Regions from separate parts of the Homo sapiens genome. Here regions 1 and 3 are each reported to be linked to region 2. The links are microRNA targets in miRTarBase. Many come from high-throughput screens and were not tested one by one. Region 2 holds a microRNA gene; each other region holds the end of a gene's coding sequence.
What was found. The annotated mature microRNA hsa-miR-3689a-3p reads CUGGGAGGUGUGAUAUCGUGGU and lies in region 2 at 1,170-1,191, shown strand. An mRNA with a match to its seed (bases 2 to 7 or 8) in the 3' UTR can be bound and repressed. Matches are read on the target gene's strand: a 7mer-m8 pairs with bases 2 to 8, a 7mer-A1 pairs with bases 2 to 7 and ends in A, and an 8mer does both.

Region 1 (3,000 bases), not on the chromosome of region 2:
TGGTATTATTAGTGAGCTGATAATGAAACTAAGAATGAGTTTTAACAAAAGAAGCAAGGAACAAAGATGTCCTAAATCCATTTACGAGGGCAGCAAGTCATTAATTGGTCTGGAAATTACATTTGCCTCTTTGCAGGCAATTTTATGCCTCCAACGGAACCATGGTCTCTTTGAAGTCATCCATTCTTCCCTATATTATACCACGGCATTTAGTACATTTATTTGTTTTAAATGATAATCAGAGCTTTCATCTATGTAGCATCTCTGTTTCCTCCCAGACAGAAAGGCAGGATAATTACCATTAAACCCAATTTGCAGGTTAGAACATTTCAGGCACAAATGGCCTGTTCTCTATCACACAGCAAGTCTCTTTCAGAACTAGGGAGAGAGGCAGTTTCCAAATAAACAGAATAGAACAAACTTACACAAAGAGCTCTGCTCCCACTGTGTATTCTCCTCTTTCATCGGGATCATATGAGTTTGGTTTAGGTAGGACCTTCAGGTTGATCTTAGACAATCCAAGAGCTAATTCATCGATGTCTAGCCTTTCCTTGGGGCATCCATGAATCACCTTCCTTAAACTACCAGAATACGGCTTCCTCCTGGAGAATGTGGGAAGTGAAGTGTGCCACGGGTTACTGCAACAAAGGTGTTTGCTTCACGGTGTGCAGTTATGATAGTTTGTGGGTCTCCCTACCTGCAAACAGGTAGACCTGGAAGGTAGCACAGTTCAGGGGGCTAAGGGAACTCTGGGGCCGGGCTGCCTGCCCTCAAATCCCAGTTTTTCTGCTTACCATGTGTAACCTTGGGCAAACTACATAAACGCTTTGTGCCTCAGTTTCCCCTCACTCTAAGACATACGGCCGGGTGCACTGGCTCACACCTGCAATCCCAGCACTTTGGGAGGCCAAGGTGGGCAGATCACTCGAGGCCAGTAGTTGGAGACCAGCCTGGCCGACATGGTGAAACCCCGTCTCTACTAAAAATACAAAAATGAGCCAGGCATGTTGGCGTGTGCTTGTCATCCCAGCTACTAGGGAGGCTGAGACATGAGGATCACTTGAACCTGCGAGTGGAGGTTGCGGTGAGCTGAGATTGTGCCATTGCATTCCAGCCCGGGCGACAGAGCAAGACTCTGTCTCAAAAAGATAAATAAATAAAATAAAACAGACATGCACTTATGGTATTTATTGTTGGAAGATTGAGTACCTTAATGCACACCAATGCTCAGATGACTTGGGGGCACATAGGGGACTGCTGTCACCATGCCTCACTCCTGCAGGGAAGGGGCTGCCCTACTAAAACCCCAGCGGGCCCAGTGCTGTGTCCAGAACAGGTCCTTATATTACTGCAGCCCACAATGGAACTACTGAGTAGGAGCCAAAAGAGGAGGGAGCAGGAAGAGGTGGCATTTGGAGAGGGGAGACCGCACCCACAGGTCTGCCACAGCGCGTCAACGGTATGGGGTACTTTTACAGTCAAGTTGACTTCGGTGTCCGCCCACCATCTACCTTTGTAGGACCACTGAAACAAGGGACATCCACCACGGCCCACAGCCGGGGCGCCACGGCCCCAGGAGGATATGCTAAGAAAACCATTCCACGGCCGGGTGTGGTGGCTCACGCCTGTAATCCCAGCGCTTTGGGAGGCCGAGGCGGGTGGATCACGAGGTCAGGAGTTTGAGACCAGCCTGACCAACATGGTGAAACCCCGTCTTTACTAAAAATACAAAAAATTAGCTGGGTGTGGTGGCGCGTGCCTATGATCCCAGCTACTCAGGAGGCTGAGGCAGGAGAATCGCTTGAACCCAGGAGGTGGAGGTCGCAGTGAGCTGAGGTCACGCCATTGCACTCCAGCCTGGGTGACAGAGCGAGACTCCATCTCAAAACAACAACAACAACAAAAAAAAAACAAAAGAAAACCATTCCAATCCTGTGGGTTGTTGTCTTTTTACTAGGATGATGGAAATGCAGGAAATACAGAACCTCTGCAGCTGCTTTCTCCAGGAAAGGAGATGAAAACGTTATATGTTTCAGTTGGTCAAAATGCTCTAATTTGATACTGAATATTGCAAATAAGGGATATTTAGGCATAGTTTTTTTTTTAAAATAAATTATCCACTGAAATGTATTAATATGATATAAACTTGGAAACTGATGTTTAAAAATTTTAAACTCTTAAGTCCAGACTTACTTTTACATGGCACATTTGTTATTTGGCTATAAACATTTTGATTTTCTTTGCCAATAATGAAAATAACATGAAAATGAAAAGGAAAAAAATGAAATTGAATGCCACGAAGAAAACAGATGGAAACATAAGACAAGCCCCGGCCACTGTTGGCTGGGCAGGGATGGGTGTTGGTCTCACTCCCTAAGGCTTAGAGCATGCATGGTCTCTACAGGGGACTTTGAAGGTCAGAAAAGGAGGCGTTTTCATCACACACGGAGTTAGAGAATGGTACAAAAGAACTTCTTCTCGCGAAAGGGGTTTTCTGATGCAGGCACTGGAATGATGAGAGGATCTTCCCGCACGTGAGCTTCACAGTAGGCCAGGAGGTCCGCAGCTGCCTGGGAGACCTGTGAGGGCACAGAGCACAGGTGCTCAGTTAAAGGCCCCTTTGCAGAGTGAGTCCAGGGAAGAGGTGTCCACGTACAGAGGGGACAAGCCCTAGGGTAGGCTGTATTGTGTGCACGGCCTACAACATGGTCATGCCCAGGCTGGAGGGAGGGTTTGTGCAGATCTAGGAGACTGGTTCGAAGCGGGCCTCCAAGAAGGGGAGGCTGCCCTCGCATGGCAGGCCAGCATGGAGACAGGACTGAGGGCTGGCAGGAGGCCCAGACAGCCTTGATATATTCTCGAGTAGGTGAGGAGTGGAGGTTCCAGGACAGTAGTCTCACAATGACTTTGCTAAACCGTTTCTGGAAGACTAAAGCAGAAGGCAGCCCCTGGCCAAGCCAGTGTGATCATATTTATTATCATTATTAGTTGTTTTATTGC
Region 2 (3,693 bases):
GTATGATATCGTGGTTCCTGGGAGGTGTGATCCCGTGCTTCCTGGGAGGTGTGATCCTGTGCTTCCTGGGAGGTGTGATCCCATGCTTCCTGGGAGGTGTGATCCTGTGCTTCCTGGGAGGTGTGATACCATGCTTCCTGGGAGGTGTGATCCCACGCTCACTGGGAGGTGTGATCTCACACTCGCTGGGAGGTGTGCTATCGTCTTCCCTGGGAGGTGTGATCCTGTTCTTCCTGAGCGGTGTGATCCTGTGCTCCCTGGGGGGTCTGATCCTGTGCTTCCTGGGAGGTGTGATATCATGGTTCCTGGGAGGTGTGATCCCGTGCTTCCTGGGAGGTGTGATATTGTGGTTCCTGGGAGGTGTGATCCCGTGCTCCCTGGGAGGTGTGATCCCGTGCTCCCTGGGAGGTGTGATCCCGTGCTCCCTGGGAGGTGTGATCCCGTGCTCCCTGGGAGGTGTGATCCCGTGCTCCCTGTGAGGTCTGATCCTGTGCTTCCTGGGAGGTGTGATATCGTGGTTCCTGGGAGGTGTGATATCGTGGTTCCTGGGAGGTGTGATCCCGTGCTTCCTGGGAGGTGTGATCCTGTGCTTCCTGGAAGGTGTGATATCGTGGTTCCTGGGAGGTGTGATATCGTGGTTCCTGGGAGGTGTGATATCGTGGTTCCTGGGAGGTGTGATATCGTGGTTCCTGGGAGGTGTGATCTGGTGCTCCCTGGGAGGTGTGATCCCATGCTTCCTGGGAGGTGTGATCCCGTGCTTCCTGGGAGGTGTGATCCTGTGCTTCCTGGGAGGTGTGATACCATGCTTCCTGGGAGGTGTGATCCCACGCTCACTGGGAGGTGTGATCTCACACTCGCTGGGAGGTGTGCTATCGTCTTCCCCGGGAGGTGTGATCCTGTTCTTCCTGAGAGGTGTGATCCTGTGCTCCCTGGGGGGTCTGATCCTGTGCTCCCTGGGAGGTGTGATATCATGGTTCCTGGGAGGTGTGATCCTGTGCTTCCTGGGAGGTGTGATATCGTGGTTCCTGGGAGGTGTGATCCCGTGCTTCCTGGGAGGTGTGATACTGTGCTTCCTGGGAGGTGTGATCCCGTGCTCCCCAGGAGGTCTGATCCCGTGCTTCCTGGGAGGTGTGATATCGTGGTTCCTGGGAGGTGTGATATCGTGGTTCCTGGGAGGTGTGATATCGTGGTTCCTGGGAGGTGTGATATTGTGGTTCCTGGGAGGTGTGATCCCGTGCTTCCTGGGAGGTGTGATCCTGTGCTTCCTGGGAGGTGTGATCCTGTGCTTCCTGGGAGGTGTGATCCTGTGCTTCCTGGGAGGTGTGATATCGTGGTTCCTGGGAGGTGTGATCTGGTGCTCCCTGGGAGGTGTGATCCGGTGCTCCCTGGGAGGTGTGATCCTGTGCTTCCTGGGAGGTGTGATCCTGTGCTTCCTGGGAGGTGTGATATCGTGGTTCCTGGGAGGTGTGATCCGGTGCTCCCTGGGAGGTGTGATCCAGTGCTCCCTGGGAGGTGTGATCCCGTGCTCCCTGGGAGGTGTGATCCCATGCTCCCTGGGAGGTGTGATCCCGTGCTCCCTGGGAGGTGTGATCCCGTGCTCCCTGGGAGGTGTGATCCCGTGCTTCCTGGGAGGTGTGATCCCGTGCTTCCTGGGAGGTGTGATCCCGTGCTTCCTGGGAGGTGTGATCCCGTGCTTCCTGGGAGGTGTGATCCTGTGCTTCCTGGGAGGTGTGATCACATGCCTGCTGGTGATAGAGAGGCACAGCTCCCCATTGGGGAACAACCAGGACCCAGCCCTGGGAGGTGTGGATTCAGGAGGGCCCCAGAGGCCTGCATGAGCTAGTGAGAGCTAGGAGGTGGTGTCCGCACTGGGAGCGGGACCCACACAGAGGGCACGTGGGGTAAGCATCAATGAAGTTCCGGGTGTCAGCCAATTGCACCCTCCCAATGGCCCTGGAGCAGTTGCAAAAGCTTCCTGCTCTCCCATCGTCCCCTTCTCCAACCCACTCCCGAATGCAGACGCCCCTGGCCCTCCTGGGTGGCCAGAGCCTGAGGACACTCACTAGGACAGCCCTGGGCAGCTCAAAGGAGCACTTTGGCCTGGCACAGGCCAGCTCCAGGGATGCCCCCACCTTCCTCCACATGCATGGATCGGGTTTCGTCACCAAGACATCTGCAGGACAGGAGCGGGGCCTCTGGCCACATGGCCAGAGTGCCTCCTCCATTCATGGGTCCCATGTGCAAATGGGCAGACAGGAGCTCTGAGCAGCAGATTCCCCGAGGCCACATGGGGCACTGGTGGCATCTGAGCCTGGGTCGCTGAGGCAGCTGTCCTCAGCCTGGTCTCACCAGGCCACAGCTGTCAGTGGGTAAACGTGTGTGCGCGTGTGTGTGTGCTCCTGCGGCACTGTGGGGGTCATGCCTGTGGCTGAGCATCTCCTGGAATTCTCTCGTCTCACTTTCGACCTCCTCTTCTCAGCAAATCCCATCAACCCCATCTTTGAAACACCTGGAGCCGGAGTGTGACCCACTCTCATGGGTCTGCACCGCCCCCAGCCTGCGTCTGGGTTACTGCCCCGTGTGGCTTCCCTCCCCATCTCTGCTCAGGCCACACCAGCCCCCTCCCACTTCCCCTTCCTCTCCCCACTCCCTCTGGCCTCTGCCCTGCTGTTCCCTCTCCTGCAAAGCCCTTCCTGCCCGCTGGGCTCCAGGCAGAGAGAACCTTCCCAGTGGCCCTGGTCACCCAGGAGAGCACTTCAATCCCCACCCCACACACACTACACACCCCATACACACAGGCACACACACCACACCCACACACACACTATACAGACACAGCACAAACCACACACACAGGCATGCACACTATACACATGCAGCACACACCACACACACAGGCACATTCCCCACAGGCACGCACACATATACCATACACACGCCAGCACACACACCACACAGGCACATGCACAAACACCACCTCCACACACAGGCATACACCACACACACACACACCACACACACCACACACACAGGCACACACACCACATACACAGGCACAGCTCCCCACAGGCACACACACACACCACACAGGCACACCACACACACAGGTACACACACAACACACATACACTTCACATAAACACAAATAGCACATGCAAAATACACCACATAGCACATGCACACACGTGCCATACACACATGCACATCACCCCCCCCACACACACACAACCACACACATGCACATTGTCTCCTCCCCTTTACATTTCCTCAGGTCTCATTCCTCTGGGCACACCTTACCCCTGCCTTGTGGGTCTTGGTCAGCCCGTGTCCCCTGGAGTGGCATCTCCTTGAGGGTGGGTTCTCCCCTGCTGCTCCCGCCTGGCACACAGCAGGTGGTCAATGAACTGCCACTGAAGGAATGGGGGAATGAATGGATGAATGAAAGAGTGGATGGATGGATGGATGGATGGATGGATGGATGGATGGATAAATGATGAATAGATGGATGGATGGATAGATGAATGGATGGATAGATGGATGGACAGATAAATGATGAATAGATGGATGAATGGATGGATGAATGAATGAATGGATGAACAGATGAATGAAAGGGTGAACGAATGTGTGGATGGATGGATGGATAAATGATGAATAGATTAATAGATGGATGAATGGATGAATGAATGGATGAAT
Region 3 (3,000 bases), not on the chromosome of region 2:
TTGATGGAAGGAGCTAGTTTTCCTGAGCCTGTGTGTGCACCAGGCACTGGGGCTGATGTTCCAGCCTCGTGGCGTGGGAGCAGGAGAGCTCCGTCCTGCATTTCTGTGGTCCGTGGCCGCTGTTTCTGTGCGCCTGCGCCTCGGAGAGCAAGTGAAGGAGCATCATGGGTTTTGTTTTCTCCCTTAACCCTCTGAAAGACAGTTTGATACTAACAAAAAACGCAGCAGAGGGGATCCGACGTCAGAGCTTTTAGAATTACTTTTTTAAGCAGCTGTCTTCTGGCTGGGTGCGGTGGCTCATGCCTGTGATCCCAGCACTTTGGGAGGCGGGTGGATCACCTAAGGTCAGGAGTTCAAGACCAGCCTGGCCAACATGGTGCAACCCCGTCTTAGTAAAAATACAAAAATTGGCCTGGCGTGAGAGCGGGCACCTGTAGTCCCAGCTACTCGGGAGGCTGAGGCAGGAGAATCGCTTGAACCTGGGAGGCAGAGGTTGCAGTGAGCCGAGATCGCGCCACCGCACTCCAGCCCGGGTGACAGAGCGAGACTCTGGCTCAAAAAAAAAAAAAAAAAGCTGTTTTCTGATTACTCAGAGCTGTCCTAGGCAATGGTGCTTTGTAGCTCCTTGGAGATGTCGCTGGGCGTCCTGGCAGGGGTCAGGCAGTGAACTGGGAGAGTGGTTGCCTCCCCAGCACCCGTGACCACCCTGGTCCTGCTCGTGTGGGAGATGCTCGGGCCGTGTGTGCGCCAGGGTCCGGGGTGCCGGGTGTATGTGGCAGTCACCTGACCCGCGCTGCCAGTTATCATCGGAGCTCATCCATGTGGCCAGTGAGGTCACAGGAGAGGACCCGGCCACAGCCTCTCAGTGGCCTGGAGCACACGGGGGAAGCGACCCCCCCCAGGTCCCGGCTCTGCTGTGGTCCCCTGTCCCGTCTGCCCCTGGAGCGACAGTGTGGTTTCGGCCGCAGCAGAAACGTGACTGAGAACGCATCCCCGCGATGACCTGACCCTTCTGCTCAGGGCTGGGACTGTCCCTAGGAGTTGAGCAGGAACAGGCATCTGTGGTTTACGGCGACCTGGCTCTCCGCGGGCCACGTGGGTGGTGAGGGCACACGAGTGGGAAGCGGCACCGACGTGTTTCTCCCCGACCGTGGCTTTGCCAAAGACTTTTAATAGCATTTTTTAAGTGCAAAACGTCTAGGTAAAAATCTTTATCATCAGTGACCAAATTAGAATGTATTTAATATAGTAGGTGGTTTAAGAACTGTTTTAACGTAAGACAAACTGATAGCAACATTCTGTTGTTTTAAAGGAAGTGGGTCCGTGACATTCTGCAGCTAGTCCACTACTCCAAGGTAACTATCGACTTGGTTTCAGTGAATCTATTTTGTTTTTAACTACAGTGATTTATTAGCTCAGTATCTAGAAATTACGTATATTTTGTGCTACTGTCATCGATGTGTAAACTCTGTTTTTATTTGTATTTATGCACTTGGTTCCCATTTGGAGCCTCTGGTCTTTTCTGGGATAAGTGGTGTCTGCCGAGACATCTCCCGGTTGTCAGTGGTCAGGAGCAGCTGAGCTCTAGTCTGCCAGCTGCTCTGCTCTTTCTGGGAAGGAGGTGGCGCCCGCCCCTCAGGGTGTCTCCAGGGCTCAGCTTCCGGGGTGGTAGAGCTGGGGAGCCCCAGGGGTGGGGGGACAGCTGGGAGATGGAGGTGGCACCTGCTCCCCTAGATCAGTACTGGCTCTGAGGACAGGTGAGCAGTGGGAAGACCAAAGAATGGCTGGCAGCGCTGCCAGGGTTGGAAATGGGGGCAAGATCCTGGGGCTGTGTGCCCTGGGGCCTCCCTCACCTGTCTTGGTGGCCATGGCCTCAGGGATGGCTCCTAGGTGGCTGAGGCACAGCAGTGGCTGGAAGGTGCCCCGTGGAGGCTGAGGTGGAGGCGCGCCCAGCAGCTCCCCCCTGTGGCCATGGCGGGCACGGGGCGTAGGAGCTGGCTGGCGGCCGGCTCTGCATGTTCTTGTTGCCTGTCGTCTGTAACTCTAGTGTTCGACATTCGCCGTGATACAGTGGTGTCACGACGTGTGTAACTGTGGTCAGCAGACCTTGTTCCGCGTGGACGCCTCAAGTGGATTAATTTCTGGAAGCCTCAATCTGTATGTTTGAGTATTTACATGAGAATGTTATTTGAATGGAATTTTCTTAACCCAGAAGGTAGTATTTATAATCATTTACTTGTAGCGAACTGTTTAAAGTTAACACTTGTTTAAATTTTTTTACACTATAGCATTTATGCAATGGTTTACAGAATTCATGGAGTTATTTTTATCAGTATGGGAATTAATTAAAACCTTGAATCTTTGTTTTGTCTGCTTCTCTGAGCACAAGCCTGGTCAGCTGGTCCCTGCGGGTCCTACCAGCCAGCTTCTCTGTAGGGCTCTCGGCCGCGTCCACCTCTGCTCTCCCACCACAAGGTCACAAACTCCCACGCAGTCCTGGGTCACCCCGCAGCTGCTCTGGAGACTTGGCTCTGGGCGTCTCGTGGCCCAAGTGCTCCAAGTTGGAAGTTTCTGCCAAAACACCAGGTGGCCAGTCCTCACCTGGACCCACAGGTGGCGAGTGTGATGGTGAGCCTGGCCCTCTCCCCACAGGTGACTCACCTGTGGGCCTCGTGTAGGGGATGCCGTGCTGGGTGAGCAAACCTTTCAGCCTTTTGATCTCCTTTGAGAGTTCTTTATGAGCCTACCAACCACAAAAAGAGTTCAAGGGAAAGCCCAGGTGCTGGAGGGCTACTGCGTGCCACCACCTCCCCCCAATACGGTACCTTCCTGCAGTTTTCCAGGGTCTCAAACCCCAAGCTGTCAGGACCTCCCTCCAGCTGGGTGGGTTCATTTTCTTCTGGGGTCTTTAAGTAGCCAGCATCCTCAAAAAGTGTCCTCAGCAACTTCTCATGGCCCTGAAGGTGGAGGATGCAGGGGCAGCACCCAGCTCCCAGCCAG

Region 1: miRTarBase lists GNG4 as a target of hsa-miR-3689a-3p. Seed matches in the 3' UTR shown: 8mer at 1,642-1,649 and 8mer at 900-907.
Region 3: the mRNA of GNPTG is a reported target of hsa-miR-3689a-3p. The part of its 3' UTR that is shown has no 7-base or 8-base seed match.

What each region holds. Positions count from the first base shown.
Region 1 is chr1:235,549,659-235,552,658 of GRCh38, forward strand. GNG4 (G protein subunit gamma 4) reads right to left here. Exons shown (of 4, transcript NM_001098722.2): 4 at 1-2,579. The coding sequence ends at 2,451. Among named protein-coding and RNA genes, the nearest start is that of B3GALNT2, 47 kb to the left of the region's middle.
Region 2 is chr9:134,846,824-134,850,516 of GRCh38, reverse strand. It overlaps MIR3689C (microRNA 3689c), which reads left to right and starts at 1,148; the gene lies at 1,148-1,219. MIR3689A (microRNA 3689a) reads left to right here and starts at 953; the gene lies at 953-1,030. It overlaps MIR3689D1 (microRNA 3689d-1), which reads left to right and starts at 835; the gene lies at 835-908. MIR3689B (microRNA 3689b) reads left to right here and starts at 245; the gene lies at 245-392. It also overlaps MIR3689D2 and LOC101448202.
Region 3 is chr16:1,362,568-1,365,567 of GRCh38, reverse strand. GNPTG (N-acetylglucosamine-1-phosphate transferase subunit gamma) reads right to left here. Exons shown (of 11, transcript NM_032520.5): 9 at 2,826-2,957; 10 at 2,662-2,743; 11 at 1,455-2,571. The coding sequence ends at 2,477. It overlaps UNKL (unk like zinc finger), which reads left to right. Exons shown (of 15, transcript NM_001372107.1): 15 at 1-2,363. Among named protein-coding and RNA genes, the nearest start is that of GNPTG, 12 kb to the right of the region's middle.